Linked DNA regions of Homo sapiens: regions 1, 2 and 3 are each linked to region 4. Evidence: fine-mapped QTL for protein levels in blood plasma. A gene starts in region 4. Each other region holds a variant in brackets. All regions are shown on one strand. Distances are between the middles of the regions. Region 1 has its middle 46 kb from the start of HPGDS. Region 2 has its middle 17 kb from the start of HPGDS. Region 3 overlaps HPGDS (hematopoietic prostaglandin D synthase). Region 4 holds the start of HPGDS (hematopoietic prostaglandin D synthase).

Evidence for each region. PIP is the chance, under the fine-mapping model, that this variant and not a neighbour inherited with it causes the effect. The UK Biobank Pharma Proteomics Project read protein levels with antibody pairs (Olink). The fine-mapping took linkage between variants from a reference panel, not from the people measured, so its PIPs are less certain.
Region 1: its variant is fine-mapped to the plasma level of the HPGDS protein (UK Biobank, PIP above 0.99).
Region 2: its variant is fine-mapped to the plasma level of the HPGDS protein (UK Biobank, PIP above 0.99).
Region 3: its variant is fine-mapped to the plasma level of the HPGDS protein (UK Biobank, PIP above 0.99).

The regions. Positions count from the first base shown.
Region 1 is chr4:94,384,744-94,392,850 of GRCh38, forward strand. No RefSeq gene overlaps it. Among named protein-coding and RNA genes, the nearest start is that of HPGDS, 46 kb to the left of the region's middle. RefSeq lists an enhancer at 1-357. The variant G/A (reference allele first, on the strand shown) is at 3,467.
Region 2 is chr4:94,355,428-94,363,534 of GRCh38, forward strand. No RefSeq gene overlaps it. Among named protein-coding and RNA genes, the nearest start is that of HPGDS, 17 kb to the left of the region's middle. The variant A/C (reference allele first, on the strand shown) is at 3,706.
Region 3 is chr4:94,294,404-94,302,510 of GRCh38, forward strand. It overlaps HPGDS (hematopoietic prostaglandin D synthase), which reads right to left. Exons shown (of 6, transcript NM_014485.3): 5 at 7,743-7,841; 6 at 4,132-5,241. The coding sequence ends at 5,077. Among named protein-coding and RNA genes, the nearest start is that of HPGDS, 44 kb to the right of the region's middle. The variant A/G (reference allele first, on the strand shown) is at 4,303.
Region 4 is chr4:94,338,624-94,346,730 of GRCh38, forward strand. HPGDS (hematopoietic prostaglandin D synthase) reads right to left here and starts at 4,213. Exons shown (of 6, transcript NM_014485.3): 1 at 4,172-4,213.

The DNA.
Region 1 (8,107 bases), 46 kb after region 4:
TGGGAGTGACTCGTGTGAAGGAGAAAAACTGGCCGTGAGGGACAGAAGTTGGAAAGCTAGCTGCTTGTCTAGCCACCTTATCAGCATAAGCGTTGCCTAGAGCAATGGGATCTGACGCCTTTTGATGGCCTTTGTAGTGAATGACTCTAGCTTTCTTTGGAAGTAAAGCGGCCATGAGCAGAGTTTTTATTAAAGAGGCATTAATGATGGAGGACCCTTGCGTGGTGAGGGAATCTCTTTCAGCCTATATAATAGCTTGGTGGTGCAGAATATAAAAGGCATATTTAGAGTCAGTATAAATATTGACGTGTAGTCCTTTTGCAAGAGTGAGGGCTTGAGTTAAGGCAACTAATTCGGCTTGCTGAGAGGTAGTGGAGTGGGGCAGAGTGGTAGCCTCAATGATAGATGTGGAAGATGCTGTAGCATAGCCTGCCTTCGCTGGTGAGTGGCGATCAGGTCTGGTGGAACTGCCATCAATAAACTAAATGTGATCAGGGTGAGGAACAGGAAAGAAGGAAATATGGGGAAATGGGGTGAATGTCAGGTGGATCAGAGAGATACAGTCATAAGGGTCAAGTGTGGTATCCAGAATAATGTGGGAGGCCGGATTGAAGTCCGTGCTGGGAAAAATGGTAATTGTGGGAGACTCAACAAAGAGTGAGTATAGCTGAAGGAGACGGGGAGCAGAAAGTATATGTGTCAGGTATGAGGAAGAAAATAGATTTTGGAAGTTATGAGAAATGTAGAGAGTGAGTTGAGCATAGTTTGTGATTTTTAGGGCCTCTAAAAGTATGAAAGCAGCGGCAGCTGCTGCATGCAGACATGAGGGCTAGGCTAAAACAGTAAGGTCAAGTTGTTTGGACAGAAGGGCTACAGGGTGCGGTCCCAGCTCTTGTGTAAGAATTCTGACCGCACTAACCATGCCTAGAAGGAAAGGAGTTGTTGTTTTGTAAGGGATTGAGGTTTGGGAGATTAGTTGGACACAATCAGCAGGGACAGCAGGTGTGTTTTTATGAGAATTATGCCAAGATAGGTAACAGATGAGGATGAAATTTGGGCTTGACTGAAGTAAAGGGGGCTGTCTGTGAAGCCTTGTGGCAGTACAGCCCAGGTAATTTGCTGAGCCTGATGGGTGACAGGGTCGGTCTAAGTGAAAGCCAAGGGAGGCTGGGATGAAGGGTGCAAAGGAATAGTAAAGAAAGCATGTTTGAGATCTAGAACAGAATAATGGGTTGTAGAAGGAGGTATTGAGGATAGGAGAGTATATGGGTTTGGCACCACGGGGTGGATAGGCAAAACAATTTGGTTGATAAGGCGCAGATCCTGAACTAACCTGTAAGTCTTGTCTGGTTTTAGGACAGGTAAAATGGGGGAATGGTAAGGAGAGTTTATAGGTTTTAGAAGCCCATGCTGTAGCAGGCGAGTGATAACAGGCTTTAATCCTTTTAAAGCATGTTGTGGGATGGGATATTGGCGTTGAGCGGGGTAAGGGTGATTAGGTTTTAATGGGATGGTAATGGGCATGTGATTGGTTGCCAGGGAAGGAGTAGAGATGTCTCATACTTGTGGGTTAAGTGGGGAGATAAAAGGGGAGGATGTGAAGGAGGCTTTGAACTGGGAGAAAAGGTGGCAATGAGGTGTGGCTGTAGCCCAGGAATAGTCAGGGTAGCAGATAATTTAGTTAAAGTGTCTCAGCCTAATAAGGGAACTGGGCAGGTGGGGATAACTAAAAGGAGTGCTTAAAAGAGTATTGTGTAAGTTGGCACCAGAGTTGGGGAGTTTTAAGAGGTTTAGAAGCCTGGCCGTCAATACCCACAACAGTTATGGAGGCAAGGGAAACAGGCCCTTGAAAAGAAGGTAATGTGGAGTGGGTAGCCTCTATATTGATTAAGAAGGGGACGGACTTACCTTCCACTATGAAAGTTACCTAAAGCTTGGCATCCATGATGGTCTAGGGGTCTTCCGAGGTGATCAGGCAGTGTCAGTCTTCAGCCACTAAGCCGAGAAGATCTGGGAAGGAGTCAGTCAGAGAGCCTTGGGCCAGAGTTCCAGGGGCTCTGGGAGTGGCTGCCAGGTGAGTTGAACAGTCCGATCTTCAGTGGGGTCCCGCACAGATGGGACATGGCTTAGGAGGAATCCTGGGCTGCAGGCATTCCTTGACCCGGTGGCCAGATTTCCAGCACTTGTAGCAAGCTCCTGTGGGAGGAGGTTCTGGAGGAACGCCTGGCTGCTACAGTTCCGGCATTTGGAAGTTCTTGTGTGCTGGAGATGTGGATGGGGTTTGTCTCATAGCGGAGGCAAGGAATTGCAACTTTTTTCTATTATTGTACACCTTGAAGGCGAGGTTAATTAAGTCCTGTTGTGGGGTTTGAGGGCTGGAATTTAATTTTTGGAGTTTTATTTAATGTTGGGAGCAGATTGGGTAATAAAATGTATATTGAGAATAAGACGGCTTTTTGACCTTTTAGGGTCTAGGGCTGTACAGCATGTCAGTGTTGCTGCCAAACGAGCCATGAACTGGGCTGGGTTTTTATATTTGATTAAAAAGAGCCTAAATGCTCTCCGATTTGGGATAAGGAAAAAGGAGCATTAACCTTGACTATGCCTTTAGCTGCAGCCACCTTTTTAAGAGGAAATTGCTGGGCAGGTGAGGGAGGGCTACTCATGGAATGAAACTGTAAGCCGGACCAGGTGTGAGGAGGGGAGGTGATAAAAGGATTATAGGGTGGAGGAGCAGAGGCTGAGGAAGAATTGGGACCTAGCTTGGCCTGGCGAGGAGGGGAGAGGTCAGATGGGTCTGTAGAAAAGGAAGATTAGAAAGACTCAGTGACGCTTGGGGTTGTGACTGAGGGGACAGGCGAGAGGGAAAGAAGGAAGATTAGGGATGAGTTGCACTGGGAACAGAGACTAGGGAGGGACTGATGTGTAAAAGAATGCCTGGATGTCAGGCACCTTAGACCGTTTGCCCATTTTACGACAAGAATTATTTAGATCTTGTAGGATGGAAAAATTGAAAGTGCTGCTTTCTGGCTATTTGGAACCACTGTGGAGTTTGTATTGGGGTCAAGCAGCATTGCAGAAGAAAATAAGGCATTTAGGTTTTAGGTCAGGTGTGAGTTGAAGAGGTTTTAGGTTTTTAAGAACACAGGCTAAGGGAGAAGAAGGGAGAATGGAGGGAGAATGGAGGGCAGAAGCTTACCCGTAGTGAAGGAGGCAAGCCCAGAGAAAAGAGAGAGTAGAGACATGGAGAGAAGGGCTTGGGGGTTCTTGCCCCCCAGAAAAGTGGTGAAGGGGTTGGGGTGTGGAAATAAGGGGTTGGTGCACAGAGATAAGAGGTCAGGACATGGAAATAAGGGATCGGGGCACAGAGATAAGAGGTTGGGGCATGGAAATAAGGGATCAGGGTGCAGAGATAAGAGGTTGGGGTGTGGAAATAAGGGATCGGGGTGCAGAGATAAGGGGTTGG[G/A]GCATGGAAATAAGGGATTGGGGCACAGAGATAAGGGATCAGGGCATGGAAATAAGGGATCGGGGCACAGAGATAAGGGGTCAGGGTGCGGAAATAAGGGATCAGTGGGTTCTTGTCCCCCAGAAAAGCAGAGAAGGGGTAGAGACAGGGAGAGAAGGGGTCAGGGTTCTTGTCCCTCCCCCAGAAAAGCAGGACTTGCCGCTAGCTAAGAGTGAAGGACCAAGGCAGGCATCCCTACGTGGTCAGACACCTCTGAAACATGGGTGAATAATCAGAGAGGCATCCCTGCAATGATTAAACACCAAGGGAAGGCTGCCTTCCCGAGTCCATGACTGGCGCCGAAGTTTTGGGTCCACGGATAAAACGTGTCTCCTTTGTCTCTACCAGAAAATAAAAGGAATTGAAATTAAGAGAAGGGAGAGATTGAAGGGTAGTGCCAAGATTGAAAGGAGAAAGTGGTTGAGGGATAGTGAGAGAGGTTGGAGAAGAGAGTAAAGAGAGGCTGCTTACCCGATTTAAAATTGTTGAGATGTTCCTTGGGCTGGTGGGTCTGAGTACCTGAGGTCCTAAGTGGATCTTTCTCACGGAGCAAAGAGCAGGAGGACAGGGGATTGATCTCCCAAGGGAGGACCCCCAATCCAAGTCACGGCACCAAATTTCATGCGTGTCTGTGTGAAGAGACAAAGCAGGCTTTGTGTGAGCAACAAGGCTGTTTATTTCACCTGGGTGCAGGTGGGCTGAGTCCAAAAAGAGAGTCAATGAAGGGAGATAAGGGTGGGGCCGTTTTATAGGATTTGGGTAAACGAAAATTACAGTCAAAGGGGATTTGTTCTCTGGCAGGCAAGAGTGGGGATCGCAAGGTGCTCAGTAGCAGAGTTTTTGAGCCAGGATGAGCCAGGAGAAGGAATTTCACAAGACAATGTCATCAGTTAAGGCAGGAACAGACCATTTTCACTTCTTTTGTGATTCTTCAGTTACTTCAGGCCATCTGGGCATATAGGTGCAAGTCACTGGGGATGCGATGGCTTGGCTTGGGCTCAGAGGCCTAACACTAACAGCTCTAGGATTTTCAGAATGATAAATGAACGTTGGTTTTGACATAAAGTCACAAGCTGCATTAGCCCCTAACAAGAGAGTCAGCCTGTCCTTTGAAGTTTGAAAGCCAGGCACTGACTTCTCTTTAGCTAGGAAAGTCCTAGATGGCATCTTCTTCCAATGTAACTGTTTTGTCCACATTGAAAATCTGTTGTTTAGCCACTTTCATTCTTTGTCTTAGCTAGGTCTTGTGGACAACTTACTGCAGCTTCTCCATCAGCACTTGCTGTTTTACTTTGTACTTTTATATTATGGAGACAACTTCTTTCCTTAAACCTCATGAACCAACTTTTGCTAGCTTCCAACTCTTCTTCTGCGGTATTCTCCTCTTTCAGCCTTCATAGAATTGAAGAGAGATAGGGTCTTGCTCTGCATGAGGCTTTGGCTTAAGGGAATGTTCTAGCTGCTTTGATCTTCTATCCAGACCACTCGAACTTTTTCTCTATCAGCAATAAGACTGCTTCACTTTCGTATCATTCACCTGTTTACTGGGGTAGCACTTTTAGTTTCTTTCAAGAACTTTTCCTTTGCATTCACAACTTGGCTGTTTGGCACAAGAGGCCTGGCTTTCAGCCTTTTGACATACCTACCTCACTAAGCTTATTTCTAGCCTTTAACTTGAAGTGAGGGTCACTGCTGGGTGTGGTGATTCATGCCTGTAATCCCGGCATTTTGGAAGGCTGAGGCAGGAGAATCATTTGAGACAAGAAGTTTGAGATCAGCCTGGGCAACAAAGTGAAACCCCATGTCTACAAAAAGTTTAAAAATTAGCCAAGGGTGATAGTGCAAGCCTGTAGTCCTGGCTACTTAGGAGCCTGAGGTAGGAGGATTGCTTGAACTCAGGATTTCGAGGTTACAGTGAGCCATGACTGTACCACTGCACTCCAGTCTGGGCAATAGAGCAAGACTCTGGCTCTATAAAAATAAATTTAAAAATAAAGTAAAAGGCATGTGACTCTTCCTTTCAGCTGAACACTTAGAGGCCATTGCTATTAATTGGTCTAACTTTAATACTGTTGTGTCTCAGAGAACAGGGAGGCCCAAGGAGAGCGAGAGAAGCAGGGAAAAGGCTGGTTGGTAGAGCAGTCAGAACACACACATTTATTGATTAAGTTCACTATCTTATAAGGGCACAGTTCATGGCACCCCTAAACAATTCCAGTAGTAACATTAGAGATCACTGATCACAGATCACCATAACAGATGTAATAATAATTTAGAAATATTGCAAGAATTACACAGAGGCATGGAGTGAGCACATGCTGTTGGAAAACTAGTGCCAATAGACTTGCTTGACACAGGGTTGCCACAAACCTTCAGTTTGTAAAAAACGCAATATCTATGAAGATCAATAAAGCAAAGATCACTAAAATGAGATATGTGTGTAGTCATTTTAAATGTACTTACCATTTTTCCTCCTCTTATCTTTTTGGCTATGTTAATTTAAAAAAAACAAAATACATATAGATCTGAAGTTCATTTGAAATCTCCTTGAAATAACTGCTTTAGTTTTTTATTAATTTGTTTCTTCATGGATATCTCTTCTTCTCTGGATAGTAAGTAGCTTTCCTGTAGTAACCATTAAAGTATAAAAAAAATGAGTAGTAGGGACCAGGACCTGGGTCCAAATCTTAGATTGTAGATCTCACAATTTGTATTTTTATTTTGTTTCCTTTTCCCTTTTTGACACAGAGCCACCTGCTGGCAAGAGGAGGTTAACTTTGAATATATTGTAGCATGCAATTGGGTTCAGGTGCACAGGAAAAGTAGCATTGATGAGGCTGCACCTCAAAATGGCTTATAGATTTTGACTGTTAATGATACTAAAAATGTTAAAATGTACCATGTAGTTGGAGAAGGATTTTTTTTAAGCTGAGCTTTCTCAAAGATCAAATTAAAATGTTGATGAGAAAACCTCATTAAAAGCAAAGAAGTTGAAGAGACAGTGGAGAGGAGGGAGAATCCATTATCTAAGGTTCTTTAAAGGCAAGAATAGGAGAATTCCTGGGCAAAGGTGGAAAACAGGTGAAGACAAGAGAAGGGGATTCTCCACCGATGCACCAGACAAGAATGGGAAGAGATAAGCGGAAGATGGTGAGGTAGTGGGAAGTTGATTTTGATTTTATCTGGGCTAAAAGGGAAAATGGGATAAGAGTCTAAGGCATAAAGTAGAGCACAGAAAATGTAAAACAGTCCAGCAAGTAAGAAAGCAACTTGCTTAGGGAAACACACTAGGATTTTAGGGCCATGTTGAAAGTCCAGTTGAAGTTGACGATAGCAAATTTCCAGTATTATTGAATGGATATGCCCTACTTTGTGATTTTTCTCCAAAATTGGTCTGTTATCCAGGTTAAGATATACAAAAATGAAAGAGTGGAGGTCACACTGCATTAGTTTTTGCTAAACAGGAGAGATAAGACAGTTTATGGCACTGACAAAATTGTTCTTAGAATTATGGGCCATGAACTATAAACTGAATAGGAAGATAATTAAACATAGGGAGAGGATATAGAAATGGGGACTGGACCTTCACTGAAGGATCATCAAGGTAGGAGTAGTTAAAGAATCAATCCAGAAAAATGAGACATTATGGTAAGAGTGCTCAATGTCTAAGCCATTTATTTGGAATATTGATAATTTTGTTCTTTTTCATTAAAAGATCCAGAATTTCATTAAAAGATCCAGACCAGGGGAAGAGATAACTGAGTGTAGAAAAGGCCGTAAAAGATGAGTTTGGTAAGAAAATGAGAAATCAGAGCATCGAAAAGATACTATGGGTATTGAAACCACCCACAATGATGGCAGGAATTAGAGCAGGGGAAAGACTCTGAATCAAGTGCAAAGTTTTTGATGATCAAAGGAAAGTAATCAAATGATAGCAATGACAAAGAAAATTAGCAGGTTATAGAGGTAAAATGGTATAAGCCTTAAGAAATAGGATTCCTTTTCACAAGAGATTGGGTGGGTCATGTTCTGAAAGATGAAATGAGGAGCAGAAAGTTTTCTAATCTTGCATCTAGATAGCAAAGTCTCTGACGTTTGAAAGAATCACATCCACCACTCCACTGGGCTGCTGGAGAGCACCAGCCCTGCAGTAAGGCAAGTGAAGGGGCTCCTTGGAGACCGGAGTTTGTGCTGATGATGAAGGAGCAGTTCCAGGGCTCTACAGCTGGGGAGGTGGGAAGTGGAGATAGAATGGAGGACAAATAATTTAGCTTCAATAATATACTTAGTTTATTAGTCTTAGTCGAATAGTCTTCCTCTTTCCTAAAGGATCTATTCAAATTGAAGAACTAAGTTGAGGTTACTTGTATTAAATACTCAGTTACTGATGCCAGGTGTGACAGCTCACGCCTGTAATCCCAGCACTTTGGGAGGCCAAGGTGGGCAGGTCACTTGAGGTCAGGAGTTCAAGATCAGCCCGGTCAAAATGGCACCCCATCTCTACTAAAATTACAAAAATAGGGCGAGGTGCGGTGGCTCATGCCTGTAATCCCAGCACTCTGGGAGGCCGAGGCAGGCGGATCATGAGGTCAGGAGATCGAG
Region 2 (8,107 bases), 17 kb after region 4:
GGTGGCGCATGCCTGTAGTCCCAGCTACTTGGAAGGCTGAGGCAGGAGAATCGCTTGAACCCAGGAAGCAGAGATTACAGTGAGCCGGGATCATGCCATTGCACTCCAGCCTGGGCATCACAGCAAGACTTCGTCTGAAAAACAAAAAAAGATTCAAGGATAACAGAGAGAAAGATAATTGACTGCTAAGGATGGAGGAAAGTCTTCCCAATAGAAAAATGCCTTTGAGGTAAGTTAGTATTGATCAGGGCCAGAGTTCTAGCTAGCATCTAGCTCCAGGTAGATGAGTCTGAAAAGCAAGCACAGGTCAGACCATAGCAAGTCTCTCATGGCATGATGGAAAGAAAGAAGCCTGTGGAAACTACATGTAAACTTTTCTCCTTGAGAACTCTGTCAGTTGCTAATAGCATGCTCTACCCACTATTTCTTATATATGTATAGAGAACTAAGCCTTAACTGTATGTTTAAACACAGTCATAGGAACAGTGCATTTATGATCAATAAGCCCAACTAAGTCTCAACTCTCTTTTAGAGTTTAGATATAGTCAACTTGATAAACTTTTATTGAGCAATAGCTATGTAATACTTAAGCCAAAACTTGAAGATGAGAAAGTGTGGGAAAGAAGAAAAGCATTCAGGCAGAGGGAAGGTTCAAGTAAAGGCACAGAAGTAAGAGTGAAGAAGACATTCCAATCTCTATGTAAAGCAGGGATCCTGGTGGGAGGCAGGTGTTGTCTGAGCCTAACCCACCAGACTGAACCTCATGGAGCTTGTACCCCAGGCAGTGAGGAATCACTGAAGGATTTTAAGTAAGGAAGCAACAGGAGTACATTTCATTTGTAAACAATCGCTCTGACCAATATGAATCAGAGAAAGAAAAGAACTATGAAAAGAAAGCAGTGAAGTTGCACTAAGACATCATAAAATGTTAAATGGAATTATCGAGCCTCTTCCATAACATGCCTACAGTAACAACACAAGCAGTGTTTGCTTTTTAAGTTTTCATTAGGCAGTTGTTTCAGGGAGGACCCTGTTCAACAGCAACCCCAAATTACACAGACTTCAGAAAAAAATAAAAAAAGAATTGTATTGGATATAGAAATGGCTGCCTGATCTCATGCTGTTATCACCAGCTTCATCCCTCGGTTCTGCTTATATAAAGTTAGTGCCATTCCCAGCTTCCTCCTCATGGCTTCCAGCTACTCCGAGATTACCCCTTGTGGTTGAAAATATCTGAGCAGGTGCAAGCCCAAAGGTCTTTTGCCACCAAATCCAGCAGAATAGAAGGCTTCTGTTTCCCAGAGGCCTGGCAAATGTCATCTAGAATCTCACTGCCTGACTGCAAGGCCCTGTGCCTAGGGCCTGCAATACTTTCAGGGGCCTATGAAAAATGTTTTAATTTCTTTCAAAATCAAATGAAAAAAACACTTCTAGTTCAAGGAAAATGTCTTATTAACAATATCAATGTATCTATATCAGTGCCATTTAAAATAAGATTTTTAATTTTTTTGTATGGAGGAAGGTGTCCACGTAGGCAAAAGTACCCAGGGCCCACAAAAGCCGTACCTTGCTCCTGGGTGACTGGGTTATGTGCTCATCTCTGAACCAATCACTGTGTCCTGAGTGGTGGTGGAGGGTATGGTGATCAGGGAAAACCAATAAAGGCTCACTCCAGATCCAAAGATCAATCCTACGCCAACCACTTGGCTGGGAATGGGGGTTGTAGTTTTAGGATGCTGTTTCCAGAAAGCAGAGGATGATGCTGGACAGCAAATAATAGATGCCCAACATGCAGGGCCTTCTGATAACACAGGGATTTGTACACTTTTTTTTATGCTCTTGGCATTGCGTGAGACACTTCCTACTACAGGTGTTGCTGTATTTTATAGTTCTCTTAGTAAATCCAAATTTTTAATGTCCAGCCTTTGAAGAAAGAAATGTTCTAGGCATAGTTTTAGTGATTATCTGATTTCAAGCCCATTAGATGAGAAAGAAATGTCTTTTTAGTTTATCATACATTTTTATTTTAAGAGACAGATTCTTGCTATGTTGCCCAGGCTGGACTTGAACTCCTGGGCTCAAGAGATCCTCCCACTTCAGCATCCCAAGTAGCTGCGATTCTAGGTGCATGCCACCACGCCCAGTTTATCATAAAATTAATTCTAATTAAAGAAAATAGTGGGTCTTGTTATTTTCTCAACAATCTAGCATCCCCTTTCCCCATTCCACTGGGTTCTAATGGGGCTTTCCATCACATTGCTCTACCTTCCCAAACACAGAGATGGATACGTGACTTATGCCAAGTCAATCTGAATTGTAACTTTTCTATCAACGATGATTCATTTAATGAAAACAAATTGTTCTACAACTTGATGGGGTATCTCAGCAGATCCCAAGCTAGGATTCAGAGTCTGGCTGCAGGCATTGGGTCAATGAGTCAGCCCTTCATCCAAGATATTGACTTGAATTATTTCATAAGCATGAGAGGAGAACATTTTTCTATCAGTCTATCAGTGAGTGAAAGAAAAGGGATAGGAAGACAGAGAAAACTCAGGTTTGTGTTCTCCTTGCCTGGCCCCAAAACTAGATTTGTAGGGTTGCAGGAAGCAGAGAATGGGGGTCTTTTCATAAACAATTTTGTGAGTACTGCTTTGGATCTCTGTGTCAAAGTGTAGCACTGAGTTGGGATGAGGAGAGGATTCTATTTCTTGTACCATTTGCCATCCCAAGATTTCTCAGTTGCAGGAGCATCAGGACATGCACCCTTGTTGAAGGCAGCAACATTTTCCCATTCTCACATTGTTTAGCTAAGGCAGTGATCATGAGGAGACACTCCCTCAAGGTGCTTGTAGGTAACAGGCAGCAGCAACAAGGAAGGCAAGTCAGGAGAACCAGACCAGACTTGTTCTTACACACATGTGAGACATACTCTGGGGATGTTACAAAAAACTGAAGATTTTGGAAGAGGGATGCTAATAACTGTCAGTCAAGAAGGTGAGGCACAGAGCCTGTTAAATTTGGAAAAATTGATGTTAACATGACCTCATTTGTACCTTCATGCTGTTGTAAACAAGAGATGTGTGTGTCTGTTGGAGGGGGTGGGGTGTGGGGAGCTGGTGGGGTGGGATATTCTTTCAGTCTAGAACTATTTCTTGAGTGCCTTCTATCTGCCTGGCACTATTCCAGAAATCAGTGGTGCGCAAAATAAGCAAGTTTCCTTCCCTCAAGGGTTACACACCTAAGAAGTCTATGTGAAGTAGAAACAACCTGGAGCTTGGCTTTCCCTGATGTTCTAGAGTTCTGTGGGTGTTACACTCCATGTCATTTATGGATTATCAGGCTCTATGGAACTAGCTTCTAAATCAGAGTCAGTATCAAGGTAATCTCACTAACCCTCTAGCCAACTCAGTAAAATTGTAATGCCTGTCCCAAGCTAAACTCAAAGCATAAAGCTTTACTCCAAATTCAAGTAGTCATCCATTAGCTCTATTAATTCTATGCCTAATATTTGGAGGCCAGTGGTCTTGAAATGAAACGTATGGTTATTTAGCTTGGTTAGAGAGATAGAGACTGAATTCTTAGCCTCAAACCATTGGTTTTCTTTCTTTCACCTTTTTTCAAGATGTGTCTTTAAAAAATGGGATCACTGTGGCAATAGATCCAAAAATTATTTGATGAAGTGGAATATTGATCATTCAGGTGCCT[A/C]AGTACTGACACTATTTTTTAATTCTTACACTGTTTCACACTGAATGGAAATATAATCCAAGGTAACCTTCTGCTCATTGGGACTGCCTTAAGCCTTATGCGCAGTAGGGCTATTTATTAGTGATCCCAAGCAGAGAATTAAAAAACAAACAGCAAAGCATCCATTTGAACAAATTGAACTCATATGGTAAACTCAGATACACATTCTTTAAAGGAACTGTGAAGTAATCAAGAGTTTCTTCCAAAAGACATTTATAAGGAATCAAATGGGAAAAAGCCAAACGTGTATATATTCTAAAGCTACTCATCCTTTGGGATAGTGAAAAAGATCTGAAAATGGATAGTGGTGATGGCTATACAGCAGTTTGAATGTACACAGTGTAATGTCCCTAAACTATACATTTAGAAATGGTTAAAAAAGTAAATTTTTTGTTATGTATATTTTATCACAATAAAAATATTTGAAAAAAAAACCTTTCCATCCTGAGTTAAACCAGAACTTAAAAATATTCTCCAAATTGAGCTTGAACTTTCATCATATGTTATTTGGTTTGAGCCTTGAGTGACTACCACACCAGTGACTCTTTAGCGCCTGCCAAAATCTTTCTGAATGTATTTGGCTTAGTTTTAAATAATAACATTTATTGGATACAGAAAATATAACTCATGTCCTTTCCGATTCATTGAAATAAACAAATAAGTAAACATACTGTCCAAACTGAGCTCGGTTTTGAATTAAGTCATTATCATAAGCGCAAAGCAAAATGCCTGTTGTCTTTCTAGCATGTGTGTTCGATACTTGTATTTGTATTTGCCAGTTATTCCCCCAGAGATGTCATATGAATGCTTTTAATTTGAAAAATGTTGGACTGCTTTATCTGATGTCCAAACCTTACAAAAAATGTTTGCATGGAAAACTAATTAATGGTTCAATGTCCATCTTCAAGCCAAAGTATGTGCACAGCTCAAATGACGTTCAATTTTAGGCCATTGGGATCAATGCTTAATACAGAGTTGATGGTCCTAAGATCCTGGAGATTATTGTCAAGTATCTCAGCCAGGATTCTTAAGCCAAGTGGCTGTTTGCTTTTAACATAAATTTGACCTAGGTTTTCATCCATCACAGAATCAGGATATTGTTTTCCACGTGGTTTTGTGTGTGTGTTTGTGTGGTGAGACAGGCTATTATGCAGTGAGTCTATGCATAATTACTGAATTTTTTTGTTTCATTTTGTTGAATTTTTATTTAAATAATTTTCTGTTATGAACAATTTAATTCTAGTTGGTTATTGGTATTTTATTAATTTAAATATGTGTTTAAATCTGATCTGCATAAAATGATCACTACTCAACTAAATTCCAAAGGCTTATAACAAAAGAAATGTTTCAATTCCTGGTCAGTGATACTTAAGCGTTTTGGTTGTTTTCAAAGAAAAATTTCATCATCTTCTCCAGTATAGTCATATATATAACTAGTGGCACCCTATGTAGAATGCCACCATTTATGTTGATGATTCTAGTTAATATTTCAATCAATTATTACTGAATGATCTCCAATCAAATATATCAGTTCTTAAGAACATCATTGACTTTTTCTTTTGAGATAGATACAGTGGCCCTATTTTGTGATTTGATTAAGTTACTGTCTTTGATTACATCTTAGCAATACTCTTAGCTAACATAACTTACTGGCAGTAGGCATTGTTCTAAGTACTTCATATTAATTAATATATTTAATTTTCATAACTGCACTATGGGGTTTTGTATTATTGTTACTACTACTGTTATTCTTATAAGTATTTTACCACTACTATTATTTTTTACTATTTTTAATTATTACTACTACTATTATTATTCCTATTTGATAAGTAAGAAAACTGAGGATCAGAACTTGCTCACAATTACACAACTAATAATGAAAATAATATGGACTTGAACCCAAGCAGTCTGTCTTTAAAATCATTGCTCTTAATCCTTACACTATAATCCAGGCACATCCTCATAAATTTCCTACCTGTATCCAGCTTCCTCTCTTGGCATTTGCCTCTTAACACCCTATGTTCATACATTACAAAACTCATAGTTGTTTTTGCTTTATTTTGTTTTGAGCCTTTACAATACTTACTTTAGTTAGGGAAAATTATATGGTAGAGGGCAGAAAGGTGTTTCTGATTCACTTGCTTTGCTTCTGGGTCATGGTCTCCTTGTAGATTGTGACTTGCAGCCAATAAGGATTGCTGAAGTGACTTTGTCAAATGGAAATCAGTGTTTGCAGAAATGCGATAGAATAAAAGATATCACAAATATATTTTTAAATGTTCTGTATGGAACTACTTAGATTCCATATAAAGATAATCTAGGTAAGACCTGCAAGAAAAGCTGAGATCCAGCATCATTCATACTTTGTCTATGATGGAACTAAGTGTTGGTTGCAAGGCTGAGAGTAGAGGCTACCTCTCCTGACTCCCTATTTAATGCTCCTTCTTCTCGCCTCAAGAACTAATAGTCTAATAATGGGTGCATGGAAGTGAAAAGACAGTTATACAACTGGGAATGTGGTAGAGGTGAGCATAGAGTGGAAAATGAATATATGGAGACTAGAAAATATTTCCCAAAGGAGGAGATACAAACTTTAGAATTGACTAGGTAAAGGGGAGAAGGGAATGCTCCATGAGGTGAGAGCAGCATATTTTAAAATCCCAGGTCTGTGAGCATAGAGGAACTGTTCAGAGACTGCAAACAACCCAGGATGTCTGGGTAAGCTGGAAAATGAGAAAGGGGAAACTGGATATAGATAGGAGAAAAAAAATATGCCTACTATGCCATATTGAGGAATTAAAATTTTAGCCAGTCTTTTATGGATGACACTGGATGATTTTATACAAAAAAAAAGTGTCATTATTAGATTTGCATTTTAGGAAGAATGCTCTGTAAGAGAATGTGTTGGACTCTGGGATGGGAAGAGAGCTCTGTAAAGACTAATGACGGGGTGCAAAGAGACAAGAGGAAACTGTTGCAATGCAATGGAGAGGAAAGAGCAAATCCCAGAGACAGGAAGAAAACAGTGACATTATGAAAACACGTGCCTTAGGTATCTGTTGCATGACGCCAAGACAAAAAAAAAAAAAAAAAGCCAAGTGAAGAGCCCACTAAGAGGTTCATCATGAGGTAATTGTGAGAAATCCAAGTGGAAATATCTAATTGATATATGGTTCTGTGCATCTGGTGCTCAGAAAAAAATTCAAAGGCAAAATACAAATGTGGTCATTATCAATCATTTGTTTGAACAACATCTAGTAAGCATTTACAAAGTGCCGGTATTGTGATAGGCTCTGGGAATTCAGAGGAGAATCAAGTCAGATCCTATTCTTGTGTCTGTTTGTAGCTTACAGAGGAGGAGAGGAACATATGAAGAGTTAAGGGAAGGAAAGAATTTTTGGTTTGACCACACATTGTGTCCAGAGCACAATGCGATAGTTGTCTCTGGGAAAGGTAATCCAATGCAGTGCTCTGCAGTTATAGTCTCGGTGCCTTTGAAAAAATAATTTGCATAAATAATGAATTGCTATCTCACAATTCAATTAAGTTTCCTTTGGCATTTGACCCTGATTATTATTATTATTTCTGATGTCTCAGAAATAATAATAGTAGCTAACATTTATTGACTACACTTACTACATTTATTGACTACCTTGTCTACTACCTGTTAGATAATTTTCTCAGTATTTCAAGTGTATTTTCTCATTGACTCCTCCCAACAACCCCATAAAATTGGTACTATTATAATCTCTATTTTACAAATAAAGAATCCAAGCACAGAAAGAATAGGTGACTTGTCCAAGTACACTAGTTAGAAAATAGCCAACCTAAAATTCAGGCCTGCAGATTCACTTCAGGTCTGAATCTTATAGAAAAAATAAGAGTAACAGATTATAGGAAAGATAATAAAATGCTACTTTTTCATCATCGGTTGTGCATTCATGTTAAATTGTCTTATTTTGCTCTGCTATAAAATTCATATGAAGTTAATTTTTTTCAGAAAAACCTTTAATTTGGAATTACTTAATGGATTGAGAATCATTCGTATTTTTTGTGCCAGGGAGTAAAATATCTTCTTGATTTCCTTGATTGTGTTTGCTTTTCTTCATTCTCAACCTACCAAAATATTTAATGACCAACTAAGAATGTGACCACCCTCACTGTTACCATGTTAAACAAGCTTAGTCACAGACCTCTTTTTCCGGCTCCTTTATCTTTTATCTAAAAAAAAAAAAAAAAATCAAACTAGACTCATTTCCTTTTAGAACCTTTTTTTCTCTTATCTCTTTAACTCTAATTCTTCCATCAATTATAGCTTTTATTCCAGAGAAAAAATATAGACACCCTTAGCAAGAAACTCAGG
Region 3 (8,107 bases), 44 kb before region 4:
ATTGTCCAGTCCCTTTTAAGTTGGTGGCTGAGCTTGGTGAGCTGTGTTTTTAAAAGACCTTTAGTCCGTTCTACTTTTCTTGAAGACGGAGGACCGTAAGGGATATAAAGGTTTCACTGAAACCTACTAAAAGCCTGAAAAACTGCTTGGCTGATTTGACTAATAAAGGCTGGTCCGTCATCAGACTGTATAGAGGTGGGAAGGCTAAACTGAGGAATTATGTTTGACAGAAGGAAAGAAATGACTGCGGTGGCCTTCTCAGACCCTGTAGGAAAGGCCTTTACTTATTCAGTGAAAGTGTCTATTTGGACTAAGAGGTATTTTAGTTTCCTTACTCAGGCATGTTGAGTAAAACTAATTTGCCAGTCCTGGGTGGGGCAAATCCTCGAGCTTGATGTGTAGGGAAGGGAGGGGGCCTGAATAATCCCTGAGGAGTAGTAGAATAGCAGATGGAACACTGAGAAGTTATTTCCTTGAGGATAGATTTCCACGATGGAAAGGAAATGAGAGGTTCTGAGAGGCGGGCTAGTGGCTTGTACTATAGCATAGCCTGCCTTTGCTGGTATGCGGCGATTAGGCCTGGTGGAACTGCCATCAATAAATCAAGCGTGATCAGGGTGAGGAACAGGAAAGAAGGAAATATGGGGAAATGGGGTGAATATCAGGTGGATCAGAGAGATACAGTCATGGGTGTCAGGTGTGGTATCAGGAATAATGTGGGAGGCCGGATTGAAGTCCGGGCCAGAAACAATGGTAATTGTGGGACTTAAAGAGTAAGTACAGCTGAAGGAGCCGGGGAGCAGAAAGTATATGCGTCAGGTATGAGGAAGAAAATAGATTTTGGAAGTTATGAGAAATGTAGAGAGTGAGTTGAGCATAGTTTGTGATTTTGAGGGCCTCTAAAAGTATTAAAGCAGCGGCAGCCGCTGCACGCAGACATGAGGGCTAGGCTAAAACAGTAAGGTCAAGTTGTTTGGACAGAAAGGCTACAGGGTGCAGTCCTGGCTCTTGTGTAAGAATTCTGACCGCACTAACCATGCCTAGGAAGGAAAGGAGTTGTTGTTTTGTAAGGGATTGAGGTTTGAGAGATTAATCGGACATGATCAGCAGGGAAAGCACGTGTGTTTTTATGAGAATTATGCCGAGATAGGTAACAGATGAGGATGAAATTTGGGCTTGACTGAAGTAATGGGGGCTGTCTGTGAAGCCTTGCGGCAGTACAGCCTAGGTAATTTGCTGAGTCAGGGCCAAAGTGAAAGCAAAGAGAGACTGGGATGAAGGGTGCAAAGGAATAGTAAAGAAAGCACGTTTGAGATCTAGAACAGAATAATGGGTAGTAGAGGGAGGTATTGAGGATAGGAGAATATATGGGTTTGGCACCACGGGGTGGATAGGCAAAACAATTTGGTTGATAAGGTGCAGATTCTGAACTAACTTGTAAGCCTTGTCTGGTTTTAGGACAGGTAAAATGGGGGAATGGTAAGGAGAGTTTATAGGCTTTAAAAGGTCATGCTGTAGCAGGCAAGTGATAACAGGCTTTAATCCTTTTAAAGCATGCTTTGGGATGGGATCTTGACATTGAGCGGGGTAAGGGTGATTAGGTTTTAATGAGATGGGAAGGGGTGCATGATCGGTCGCCAAGGAGGGAGTAGAGGTATCTTATACTTGTGGGTTAAGGTGGGGGGATATAAGAGGAGGACACAAAGGAGGCTTTGGATTGGGAAGAAGGGCAGCAATGAGATGTAGCTGTAGTCCAGGAATAGTCAGGGAAGCAGATAATTTAAAGTGTCTCAGCCTAATAAGGGAACTGGGCAGGTGGGGATAACTAAAAAGGAGTGCTTAAAAGAGTATTGTCTAAGTTGGCACCAGAGTTGGGGAGTTTTAAGAGGTTTAGAAGCCTGGCCGTCAATACCCACAACAGTTATGGAGGCAAGGGAAACAGGCCCTTGAAAAGAAGGTAATGTGGAGTGGGTAGCCTCCATATTGATTAAGAAGGGGACGGACTTACCTTCCACTGTGAGAGTTACCCGAAGCTCGGGGTCCGTGATGGTCTACGGGGCTTCCGAGGCGATCGGGCAGCATCAGTCTTCAGCCGCTAAGCCGAGGAGTCAGTCAGAGAGCCTTGGGCCAGAGTTCCAGGGGCTCTGGGAGTGGCTGCCAGGTGAGTTGAACAGTCCAATTTCCAGTGGGGTCCCGCACAGATGGGACATGTCTTAGGAGGAATCCTGGGCTGCAGGCATTCCTTGGCCTAGTGGTCAGATTTCTGGCACTTGTAGCAAGCTCCTGGGGGAGGAGGTTCTGGAGGAACGCCTGTCCGCTGCAGTTCAGGCATTTGGAAGTTCTTGTGTGCTGGAGATGTGGCTGGGGTTTGTCTCACAGTGGAGGCCAGGAATTGCAACTTTTTTCTATTATTGTACACCTTGAAGGCGAGGTTAATTAAATCCTGTTGTGGGGTTTGAGGGCCAGAATTTAATTTTTGGAGTTTTATTTAATGTCGGGAGCAGATTGGGTAATACAATGTATATTGAGAATAAGATAGCCTTTTGACCTTTTAGGGTCTAGGGCTGTAAAGCGTCTCAGGGTTGCTGCCGAACGAGCCATGAACTGGGCTGGGTTTTTATATTTGATGAAAAAGCCTAAACACTATCTGATTTGGGATAAAGAAAAAGGAGCATTAACCTTGACTATGCCTTTAGCTCCAGCCACCTTTTTAAGAATAAATTGCTGGGCAGGTGGGGGAGGGCTAGTCACAGAACGAAACTGTAAGCCAGACCAGGTGTGAGGAGGGGAGGCGATAAAAAGATTATAGGGTGGAGGAGTGGAGGCTGAGGAAGAATTGGGACCTAGCTTGGCCTGGCTAGGAGGGGAGAGGTCAGATGGGTCTGTAGAAAAGGAAGATTAGAAAGACTCAGCGACGCTTGGCGTTGGGACTGAGGGGACAGGCAGGAGATTTGGGACGAGTTGCATTGGGCACAGAGACTAGGAATGGACTGATGTGTAAAAGAATGCCTGGATGTCAGGCACCTCAGACCATTTGCCCATTTTACGACAGGAATTATTTAGATCTTGTAGGACGGAAAAATTGAAAGTGCCGTTTTCCGGCTATTTGGAACTACTGTCGAGTTTGTATTGGGGTCAAGCGACATTGCAGAAGAAAATAAGACACTTAGATTTTAGGTCAGGTGAGAGTTGAAGAGGTTTTAAGTTCTTAAGAATACAGGCTAAGGGAGAAGAAGGAGGAATGGAAGGTGGAAGCTTGCCCATAGTGAAGGAGGCAAGCCCAGAGAAAAGAGAGCGTAGAGACACGGAGGGAAGGGGTTTGGGGGTTCTTGCCCCCTAGAAAAGCAGGACTTGCCGCTAAGGGTGAAGGAGAAGGGGTTGAGGGGTACTTGCCCCTGCCCCAGGAAAGCGGAACTTGCCGCTAAGCGTGAAGGAGAAGGGGTTGAGGGGTACTTGCCCCTGCCCCAGGAAAGCGGGACTTGCCGCTAAGGGTGAAGGAGAAGGGGTTGAGGGGTACTTGCCCCTGCCCCAGGAAAGCAGAGAAGGGGTAGAGACAAGGAGAGAAGGGGTTGGGGTACTTGCCCCTTCCCCAGAAAAGCGGGACTTGCCGCTAAGGGTGAAGGACCAAGGCAGGCGTCCCTGCGTGGTCTGACACCCTTGATACATGGGTGTATAATCAGAGAGGCGTCCCTGCATTGATTAAACACCAAGGGAAGGCTGCCTTCCCAGTCCGTGACCGGCGCCGGAGTTTTGGGTCCACGGATAAAACGTGTCTCTTTTGTCTCTACCAGAAAATGAAAGGAATTGAAATTAAGAGAAGGGAGAGATTGAAGTGTAGCGCCAAGATTGAAAGGAGAAAGAGGTTGAGGGATAGTGAGGGAAGTTGGAGAAGAGAGTAAAAAGAGGCCGCTTACCGGATTTGAAATTGGTGTGATGTTTCTTGGGCTGGGCGGTCTGAGGACCTGAGGTCATAGGTGGATCTTTCTCACGGAGCAAAGAGCAGGAGGACAGGGGATTGATCTCCCAAGGGAGGTCCCCCAATCCGAGTCACGGCACCAAATTTCATACGCGTCCGTGTGAAGAGACCACCAAACAGGCTTTGTGTGAGCAACGTGGCTGTTTATTTCACCTGGGTGCAGGTGGGCTGAGTCCGAAAAGAGAGTCAGCCGAGTTTTATGAGTTCTATATAATTTTGAATAATAGTCTTTTGTCAGATACATGTTTTACAAGTATTTTCTCCAAGTCTGTGGCTTGTCTTCTCCTTCTCTTGATCTCTGGGGTATCTACATTTTTCTCATCACA[A/G]CAACTTTATTCATGTCAGTAAATTCATCTTTACAAGTTTCTCTGGCTGCATATCTAGAGCCTTTTGAGCCGTGTCAGATTCCCACAGTCAGCTCTTTTCTCGATAACTCTTTATATTCAGTTTGAATTTCATTCCAGGATTATCAGTTTTTGTTCCTTTGCTGCACTTTCATCTTTGTTGGGGAGTTCCCTCTTTTGATTCATTTTTGTAAAATGTCAAAGGGATTTATCACTGGGCCACAAGCAGGCAATAGCAATACAACTACACACTTTGCTATCTATGCAGGAATAACAGATGTGCAGTGACCTCTGGCAGTCTTTGATAGAAGTGACTGGTCATTGGTCATGATGTACATAGGTTATTTACACAGCGATATGTGAACTGGAGAGCTACTAGCAAAGTTTGTGTTTTATGCAATTACAGGTAATTGTGGTAGCTGAAGTCCAAAACATTTTGGGGGAGGGGAAGAATGGTGTTGCTAAACCATTATGACTGCAATTCGTGCATGTTAGAACCTGTGCAAAGCAAGGTCTGCCTGTATTACATACTATTTTTCTGTAATTGTAAATGATGAGAAGCTATTCTGAAAGAAAAAGATACTGAAGAAAGATTTGTTTTTATTTTCCTTTTTAAAAATCAGAATATGGCTAAAGTGAAAATCTTAGTGGAGCTGGGGAGGGAGCATGTGGATTATCTGGCAGGCTGATGTAGCTGTCTTATCTGATGAGAGAGATGCCCCCGAGAAAAACAAACTTGAAGGCAACATGGATCAGCTAGAGTTTGGTTTGGGGCCTTCGTTTTATCCAGTTAGCGACGGCAGGAATGGCTTGGACTTTCTTCCGTAAAGTCACCAGCCTTGGATGGTTGTCTAACAGGTCAGGCTTAAAGACCAAAAGTGTGGTACTGCAAATCTCCCAGTAGAAGTCTGCCCAAGTTACCTAGTTTAAAGGAAACAAACTTTTCATTTGAACATAGAAAGTGTAGCTGTATCAGCATTCCAAAATTGAAATTAGTTTCTTAATCTAAAAGATTCAAAACAATCTTGTTATTACAAAAGCAGAATGTTTATATGATAGAAGTTCAGAAAATTACTGATATCACACTCCAGCAATCAGGTTACTACTATTAAACATTTTCGTGTATAAGATATTTTTCTATGCTGATAGATGTTGTTTTACTAACATGAGATCTTAATGGTACATACTCTTGTAACCTTGTCCAGTCTCCACCTCTCTGTGACAATACATTTTCCTTATCCAATAACCAATACGTATTTTTCCATCTGTTCTAAAATTGCCCTTTACAGGACAAAGCAGGATCTATTCCAGGTCTATGCATTTGATCTGCTTATGTCCATTAACTCTTCAAAGCAGTACCCTTTTTTTCACATCACCAAATTATTGAAGATTTCACACTAGTCCTACAGAATGTTCTATCTTCAGGACCTTTGTATTTCATCTTACCTTGTTCCTTTGTACTACGTAGTATAAAGGAAGGTGCAGGTTACTCTTAGAGGGTATATAATTTCAAGTGAAATATTTGTGGCTAAAATACATTATATTGTATCACATAAAAAGAATATATGGATGTCTGACCATTAGGGGTATGCCAAGATTGGCCACTGGATTAGTGATGACAGCCTGGTCCTACCATTGTACAGTTGTATGTTTTTATCTTTGTGTTAGAAACTAATCTGTATGCTGTTACTTTGGCTCCATATGATTATCAAAGAGTGAAGTTTAAATGTGGCCCACTCTTTTTTCTTTTTGTATAGAATTTAATAAAGCTGATTGCTAGTGCCTCAGGAACTTATTAAACATCTGTCAGCCAAGAGAAGCTACTGGCTGGAAGACTCAGAATTCAGAATAAATCCAGAATTTATTCAAATATTTATCAAGCACCTACTGTGTGCCATGCCCAGGTTTAGGTGCTGGAGAGCAAGGTAGGATGCAAGCCCTTCTCTCATGTAGCTTTTATTTTAGAAGGGAAAAGCAAATATGCAAAATGATAGGGGTTAGGAAAAAAAAAAAGTGAAGTCATGTGATGGACTATGACATGGTCAGAGAGGACTTTTTAAGAGGTGACACGTAAGCCCAGGCTTAAATATAAAAAAAGATTAAGACCTGCAGTGAGCAATCTGGGGATTAAGCGTTCCAGGTATAGGGAAATGCGTAAAGGCCCTTAAGTGGGAATGTGAGTTAGGTCTGAGGGACACACACACCAGTGTGGAGCACTGTGAAGAAGGGAGAGAGTGCCCAGAGATGAGATCAGAACATCATTTACAAAGGAATCTTAATAGAAAATGAAAAATAAATTCTTAGAAATTTTTCAATAGGGCAGGGAGAGGAGCATTTTAGTAAAGGCTATGAGGGGAGTCAGAAGAAATGAAGGGGTATGTGAAGAGGTTGAAAGTTGAGAATAAAGATGTGGCAAATGTAGTTCTGTATCACCCAGAAGGGCTGAACAGGGCAGACAGCAGAGTGTCAGCATGCTACAAAAAAGCAGTCTTATCTCCCAAAATGCAGTCTCCCTGAAGGTAGAGACCTCCACCTACCACAACTTGTAATCAGGTTTAGATTTGAATTTTTTGGCAAGACTACTAGGTGGTAGTGTGCCTAGTATCTGGTTGTCTAACTTTTTTGTGATTATTGATGGTCCATGCCTACGCCAATTAATTTTTCTGGGGTTGGAAAGTGGTGATAGTTTATTTCAGTCTTTCTTTCTTATCTATTAACTGGAATACTTTCATGAAGACAAACTTTTTCCAACTGATCGAGATATAAAATGCTTCATAATTTATCCTGATATAAAATACATATGAGTTTATACTGTTAGCTGTAGTTCAAGTTCAGGAATGGATATTTACTTGACCTTACTCACCTTACATCTCTATCTCCGTTCTCCCACATTGAAGATCCTGGTTCTCAGTGACATCAACACAATTTATTTTTGTACCCACAATATAATTATAATAATACCAGAAAAAAAATACCAATAGTTTGTAGTACCACCAACAATATGATTACTGAAAATAGTATATGATTTTTTGTTGTTCTAAGCTAAGAGATATCTGTCTTAGATGTATAATCAGATTAGTGTGTTTTACAAATGATACTTCTTGAAATAGTTCTTCTCTAGTAGAGTACATATGTATTCTGTGTGTTCTCTATGCACCTCTTTTGCATAGTTAGGTTCATTTACTTTGCTTTGATTTTTAGGATAGCTTTTTAAGTTTTCGCTGCCAATATATAATTATATAAAATATGGTTCCAAAGTCAAATCTATTTTTTAAAAAGGTTTATTTAAAGAAGTTTAACCTTTGTTCTTGCTGTAAATTCTATCCCCTCCCTATAGGTAACTTTTTTTCAGTAAGTTTTTATACTTCTATTGGTTTGTCCTTTTATTTGCTTGAATTTTTTAAGATATAAAACATACTCACAGAGTTACCAATAAGCCATTCTCTCCCCCCTAAATATGTGTCCAAGTCTTGCATAAGATGAGGCGCATTATACGTGAGCAGCTCATTGAACATCTGCTCCTAGGAGAAGGAGAAAATATCACTTTAAGAATAATGAGAAGAAAAGTAACATGATCTGAGGAGGAAGTAGATTTCTCCATCTTTATTCTCCCACATGAATTCAAGAAGAAAGAGAAGTAGCTAGATTTTTTATTCAAATTTATGACATGGAGATTTAGGTCTGATTCTCTATAGATGTGAGTCATCTCTTTATTGCTCATGGATTAAAAAAATAGTTTTGTGTCACCAGTTCTTAGTTTCTTTGTGTATAATGACTAAATATTTTA
Region 4 (8,107 bases):
TATAGCAAATATAATACATAATGGTGAATCAATAAAAGCATTTTCTTTAATGTCAGAAGTAACAAGAATCCCACTATAACATCTACTATTCAGCATAATGCTGGACAGCCTAGCTAATTCAATAATGTAAGACAACAATAAATAACATTTGTTAAGTAGTAGGAAGGGAGCGACACAGCATCCATTTGCTGTGTCCAAAATGATTGTCTATATTTAAACTTCGAGAGATTCTACAGATAAACTGGATCCTAGATTTCAAATGGAAATGCTAAGGACCAAAATAGCCAAGACAAAGAAAAAAAGAGAACAGGAGAGGAGGACCTGATGTACCAGATAGCAAGACTTAGATAAAAAGCCTTGTAATGCGGTATTTGCTCAGAGGTGCATTGTCTTAAAACAGAACCTCATATATAGGACAGACATGACATAGAGTGAGGACTAAATGGTTCTGAGACTGAAACTAGACTAAAATGGTTCTGAGACAATAGAGGGAAAATAAGCATAATTAGACCCCAACTTTCTATCAAACACAGAAATAACATCTAGGTTATCTTGGTATGATTTGACTAGCATAGCAAAACTGCAGTATCATTCTGGTCCCTTATTTCCTGTTAGCTTCATTTCTGAACCCTTCCACTGTCGTTGTGTTAAGAATCTCATGTAGAGAAAACTGCATGTTTCCTGAAATGATACAGAAGCCTGAAGTTTAAAAGCTGATTGTGTTTGAAGATATTTACATCTAAAGATCTTTGCATCTAAAATTAACCACTGGCTTCCTTACACCCCAAAGTATATCGTGTAAAGTTACTAATTCAGCAGATAGATAAAAAGCTCATTTAGAATTCTGTTTGAAAAATAACCTATACGGTTTATCAAAGAACACATAAACGACTAATAAATACCCTGGATAAAAACTTAGACATATAAACTCATATGAACATAGCTATCCACTGCAGAAGATTTAACTTTTAATATTAATATATGCATTAGGAAATAAGCTCTTTTATATGGGAAATAACAGTGTTTTTAAAGTACTATCTTGGGTACTTCCTTTCTTTCTCTTTCTTTCTTGTAGCTTTTTTTTACTTTATAGAATGCTTGTTATGGTTTGGCTATATCCCCACCAGAATCTCATCTTGAATTGTAGCTCCCATAATTCCCACTTGTCATGGGAGGGACCCGGTGGGAGATAATTGAATCATGGGGGCGGTTTCCCCCATACTGACTTCATGGTAGTAAATAAGTCTCACGAGATCTGATCATTTTATAAGGGATTTCCCCTTTAACTTGGCTCTGGTTCTGTCTTGCCTGCTGCCATGTAAGACATCCCTTCCTCTTCCGCTATGATGGTGAGGTCTCCCCAGCCATGTGGAACTGCAGTGCAGTGGCGCAATCTGGGCTCACTGAAATCTCCGCCTCCTGGGTTCAAGCGATTATCCTGCCTCAGTCTCCCAAGTAGCTAGGATTATAGGTGTGCGCCACCACATACAGCTAATTTTTGTATTTTATTTTTTAGTGGAGATGGGGTTTCACCATGTTGGCCAGGATGGTCTCGATCATCTGACCTTGTGATCCGCCTGCCTGGGCCTCCCAAAGTGCTGGGATTACAGGTGTGAGCCACTGTGCCTGGTCTAAACCTTTCTTTCTTTCTTTCTTTCTTTCTTTCTTTCTTTCTTTCTTTCTTTCTCTTTTTTTTTTTTTTTTTTTTTTTTTTTTTTTTTTTTTTTTTTTTTGAGACGGAGTCTCTCTCTGTCGCCCAGGCTGGAGTGCAGTGGCGTGATCTCCACTCACTGCAAGCTCCACCTCCCGGGTTCACGCCATTCTCCTGCCTCAGCTTCCCGAGTAGCTGGGACTACAGGCACGCGCCACCACGCCCAGCTAATTTTTTTGTATATTTAATAGAGATGGGGTTTCCCCGTGTTAGCCGGGGTGGTCTCGATCTCCTGACCTCGTGATCCGCCTGCCTCAGCCTCCCAAAGTGCTGGGTTTACAGGGGTGAGCCACCGGGCCCGGCCCGCCCCCCTCCCTTTTTTTTTTTTTTTTTTTTTTTTTGAGACGGAGTTTTACTCTTGTCGCCCAGCCTGGAGTGCAATGGCGTGATCTCGTCTCACCGCAGCCTCTGCCTCCCGGGTTCAAGCGATTCTCCTGCCGCAGCCACCAGAGTAGCTGGGATTACAGGCACCAACCACCACGCCCGGCAAATTTTTTTCTTTTTTTTTTTCTTTCTTTTTTTTTTTTTGAGACGGAGTCTTGCTCTGTCGCCCAGGCTGGAGTGCAGTGGCGCAATCTCGGCTCACTGCAGCATCCGCCTCCCGGGTTCAAGCGATTCTCCCTGCCTCAGCCTCCCCAGTAGCTGGGATTACAGACGCCCACCACCGCGCCCAGCTAATTTTTGTATTTTTAGTAGAGACGTGGTTTCGCCATGTTGGCCAGGACCTCCTAACCTCAGGTGATCCGCCAGCCTCGGCCTCCCAAAATGTTGGGATTACAGGCTGAGCCACCTCGCCCGGCCAAACTTTTTTTTCTTTATAAATTACCCAGTCTCAGGTATGTCTTAATCAGCAGCGTGAAAACTAACTAATACAATGCTGATTTATTTCATCTGATTAATTCAATCCCAGAGGCAATTTTAACATAATCATTGAAAAAATTACAAACTTTTATAATAAAACAATTTAACAATATATTATTCCGTATACTGCTGTAAAAGCACAGTAAAAAATAGTCTCAAAAATTCTAGTCTCTGTGCCAGAAAGATGACAACAATCCAATTTCAACTCTCTGACAACACAGGCTAATCAATATCCAATGCCTATACTAAACATCTTAATAAAGACTTCAGCCGAAATATTTTTAGTTCAAAAAAGAGAACTTTTGGAATAATTTTGTTAGATAGAAAACTTACAAATGAGGAATTAAGTATTGACCATTCTACAGTTCAATACAAAATGTTAGCCAACGTAAGCTCTTACTCTTAAATACGACACATCAAGAATTCAAACATATTTGGGCATTCCAGACACAGTTTTTTACATGCTTAGTAATTGCGCAATAATCTGAGTTAGAGATATAAAAACAAAGATTACTTGTGAATTTGCTATAGCTCTTCTTTGAGTTTAAGATGCAGATCTTAACTTGCCCAGTAATAAACTTATACAAAATGTAATGGCCTAGAGCATGTTTACACTCCTATTATATAGACCCTGGTGTTCTGAAATGTAAAAATTGGATTCAGACAGCAATCATGTGAGATACTATTGTTCACAGGGGAACTTCTTGCATATACTGACATTAAAACAGCTTTTTATTACCCCTAACATTTGATGGTAAAGAATGTTAATTTCCCTCATTTCACAGTGTCCCTGGGCATTTCAAGTTCAATTCTGGAAAAGTTGCCAGGTTGGAGTTAAATTATAGGACAATAGAGAAATAGAAGAATTGTTGTTGACTGAGTAAGATATTGATTTCAATCAAGCACTGGATGTTTAACTTTGAATTAGCAAGCTGAAAGCTCTATTTTTTTTTTTTTTATCAAATATCAACTAAATGTCATTTTAAGTGACTGTTTCACATTAAAGCCAAAGCAAGAGGAATAACTGAAATATCCTTTGGGAGCTGTGAGTTGAAATTCCTGGCCTGGGGTAAATCCCTTAAACCATCTCTGAAGCCAAAAGATGATAGGTTGCAATTCTTATCAAAACATGGAGATGCTTCAACAAAATGTGCCTTAAAATAATATAAAATATTACCAGTAAAAGTCTTAAACTTTAAAGCAAAGGAAAGAAATTGAACAGCCATGAGATAATATTCTCTACTCCATCAATCCAAGTTATTGAAGAATCACTTGGGAAAATTCTGGAAGTAGTAACAAACCCTGATTAAGACAGGATTTTTCCTCTAGCATTGATTATATTTTCTATGTTAAAATCCACTTGAAGAGATCTTCTTAAATCTCCTGTACCTATATTTCCTTAAAAATGACTATTTGAGTTTCACATATTCGCATATATGGAGAGGTTCTGGGTAAGACAAGGTCAGAGTGAGCACCATCATGAAAATAGCTCACAAGACAGTTAGTCACAAACAGGATATGAGAATAATAAAAACTCTGAAGTAAAGAGTAAAGCATATCTCATTTATTACCTATGTGGAGTTCAGTAATATGACTTACCTGTGTTATGTCTCTCGGGAGTCTGCAGTGTCTTGTATCCCTGGGTATGTGACTGTGCCTTGGGTTTATATGACGAGTAAGTGATAATCACGAGCCAGTGAGAGGACAGGCAACTTCCTTCTACCTAACGCTCTTCCTTCTTTTCTTAGATAAAACATGCATGCCAGGCAGTTCAAGCCTGCGAAGACTGCTGGTTATACAGGATATCTGGGTATAAATAAACCAACACATTTGTATACAAGGTAAAGTCAAAGTTATAGCTGCATATGTATGCCCACTGTTACATGTTCACTTATTTTCAGTTTTACACCATAGGCTCCTGGAGAATAAGAAAACCTGAATGTAATGAAATCATCTTTGCAGATGTGCACATGACTTGCTTCTCTATTTTAGAAACAGTCTCTCCTGTACCTGCTGTATGTTCCTTCGAGGCAGTGTCTAACAATGTGGTGTATTTAACTTGTTTGTTTTTGGTTTCTCCCAGTGGAATGTAAGCTCTGTAAAGGCAGGCACTTCACTGTCTTTTTCACTATTGTCTCCTCAGTTCTAAGAGGAGTGCCAGGCATGTCATGACCACTAATATACATCTGATGATAGAATAACCCTAATTTATAGTTCACGTTTTTGCAAGGACTGTAAATTTGCATTGTTGCTGGTTTATTTCATTTACTCTCATTTCTCAGAAAAGCCAAAGTGTTTAAAGTAAACCTGGTGTAGAAGTTTCCAATTCATCTTGTTTGTGATCCTTTTACAATTTAGTAACAAATGCCTGACATTTTAGAAATTTATTGTTTCACTTCTTAGTGCAGGAATTATTTTTATCTATAATATTAGGACAGCTCAGTGAAAAGATCCAATAAAATGCCTGCCTGGGCCTTACTGAGCCTGAGGATTATCCATGAAACATTTCAATGACCAGCTGGCTTTCAACTTCCAGAAAATTACTCCCACAGGCAACAATAGCAACATATCAATCATTTAATATTTCTTATTTCTAAAGTGCTTTTAATTTTGAAAAATATGTTTACATCCACTTAGTATAAACGTCAGAAATGAAAATAAATGTAAATACTAGTATGTAAAAAGAGAAGACGCAAGTGTAGCCCTTTACCCACCAAAAAAGGATACATGTGTGTCAAAATCAAGTGCAAATGGGATGGGAGTGGGAGCTATACAAAATTAACACAATGCATTTATTATCTTTGACAGCTTTAACTTATATTTTCAAAAAAATCTTTTTATCCTCACCTCAATGATTTTTAATCCCTATTTTTATAAATGAGGAAACTGAGACATAGGGAAATTAGGTAAATTGCCTGCGAATTTTTGTTGGGACAAGCTAGGATTAAAATCTAGGCCTTCTGATGACACATTTAATATTTTTCCTTACATAATGCTGCCTATATATAATACGAGACTGCTTCAGTTAAAAAAAAATCAAGTATACAAAAAATAACACTTTTCTCATTTTGTATTACAATTTTATCTTTTACGACCAGTTGTTTTGGCTGGAGGAAAGCAGAGTAACACATCAAGGATTGGGGAAGGAGCAGCCACTTGATCCTTGGTCACCGATCAACAGAGGCTGCTCTAGAGGCATCCATTGTCCTTGTGTGCATGGCCTCCACGCCAGGAGCTCTCTGCAGCTCCTGTAGCATTCTCATTTTGCTACCTTCTTGCCCCAGTGTGGTGGTTTCATCACAACGCTGCCTGAGATTCCACCTGCCCAGTACCCAACAGAGCCACTTCTTCTCTGTGGTCTTTCTACCTCCCTGGAGGCACAAGAGGGTCCCAGGAGAGGGTCCCAGATCTCCTCTACTCGGGAAGCACAGCTTTCCCATCCTCTTGTCTCTTCTCCCAGCCCAGGTGGGGGTGCTCTAACTCTCCTAGTCTTCTACCAGCTGTGGGCCTTTGGGCAGGTAACTTAATCTCTCTGTGCCTGAGCTCCTTCACCTTTAGATGGAGATTGATTCTACAATAAATATTTATTTGTTCCTAATCTTTGCCAGGTATTGTTCTGAACGCTAGAGATATAGCAGTAAATAAGGCTGGGCGCGGTGGCTCACTCCTGTAATCCCAGCACTTTGGGAGGCCGAGGCAGGTGGATCACAAGGTCAGGAGATGGAGACCATCCTGGTCAACATGGTGAAACTCCATCTCTACTAAAAATACAAAAATCAGCCAGGTGTGGTGGCCCACGCCTGTAATCCCAGCTACGCGGGAGTGTGAGGCAGGAGAATCGCTTGAACCCGGGAGGCAGAGATTGCAGTGAGCCGAGAGCGTGCCACTACACTCCAGCCTGGCGACAGAGCGAGACTCCATCTCAAAAATAAATAAGTAAATAAATAGAGATATAGCACTAAATAAAATCAGACAAAAACAAATCTTCATGGAGCATTCTAACAATATTAGTAATAACTCTCTCATAAGCTTTTACAGAATTAAATGAGTACACAGATATGTGCTTCAAAGTGTGCCTAATGCATAGTTAGGGATCCATGAGTGAGAGCAATTGTTAATATTATTAGCAGTTCACCTGAAGGGAAAATCGTTTCCCTTCAAGAATCTATGCTCAAGAATTCTTTCCTTTTCTGTGGTTGGGTTTGGGCACTAACAGCAGAAAGAGAAGTAGCTGTCAGGCAACTTTCATTTTTCACCCTGCTTCATCCTCTTCTGAGGAAATGAGCACGGAGCCAAGTGTCTACTGGAATAGGGAGGAGGAAAAGGGCAAGGGCAAAGTGAAAACCCCTCATGGATTGTTACCTCTCAGTTCCCTGCTCTCCAGGGCAGTGACTTCTTCATGCCACACACCCTTCAGGAGCATGTTGTGGATCCAGACTGGACTGCATGAGAAATACCCGTGAAAAAACGTGTCAAGTTGTATGATCATGTCCACACAGTCATTTAAAGGCCTATTATAATTTAATAAATATGTCTTCATTTTCTCTGGGGCTTCCTAGTTGGAAAACTTTTAATCCTGTGGTATTGAATTAGCAAATTCCTAACTGCTGTTAAAAATCCAACGTTAAATCATAGTCCATTTCTGTCCTTGTTTTCTTTATTTGCCCACCTGTGTAGTAATGTGACTATACAAGATAGTGATTAAAGAGTTTCATCCTGGAATCATGACCTCTTAGAGGAATCTCCACTCCATTATTTGCAAGCTCTGGGACTTTAGGCAGCTGCCTTAGTTTCCTTATCTGTAAAATGGTGATGATAAAAATCATTCTACTCAGAGTTGAAAGGATTCAATGAGTTTGTGCATTTAAGTCACTTAGTGCCTTGCTTAGCAAGCAGTTGCTCGATAAGTAATGGAAAAACACATACAATTTTTAAAACGTGGCCCACATATTTGTTCCTCTTTATTTATTTTTGTAAAAGAGAAGTGTTCAAACAAACCTATTTCTCCTTTTCTAGCTTGTCTGTTGATGGGGAAGGGGAGAAGTATCCAGGAGAAGCCCACAAAACTTCCTTTGCTCAGATTCTAGAGTGGTCTGGTTTACTTTTGTATATTTTATTTAATAAAACAGTTTTCCTTTTTATAGTTAGTTATTTGAAAAACTAAAAACATGTAAAAGTGACGTATTTAAACCTGGGGTTGAAAATACAGGAAATAAAGAATATGTTTTTCTGCTTCTAACCTACTTGAGTAATTGAAACATGCCTGCAAATATTTTAGTGTCTGTGTTTTCCCAGATTTCAATAATGATAATGCTATTATCTGAAGTCTGCCTCTTCAGATACTGTGAAGAATGATATGGTAATTATATCCAAGATTATGAGCAAATCTTTCACTACCTAGCCTTTTGGCTAAAAGAGGATTCCTATATGTAGGCAAATAATAGTAATAGAAATAGCTAAAATTCATTAAGTATTTCCTGTGGGCCAAGCATTGAACCAAGCACTTGTCTTGTATTACCTCATTGAATGCCTACA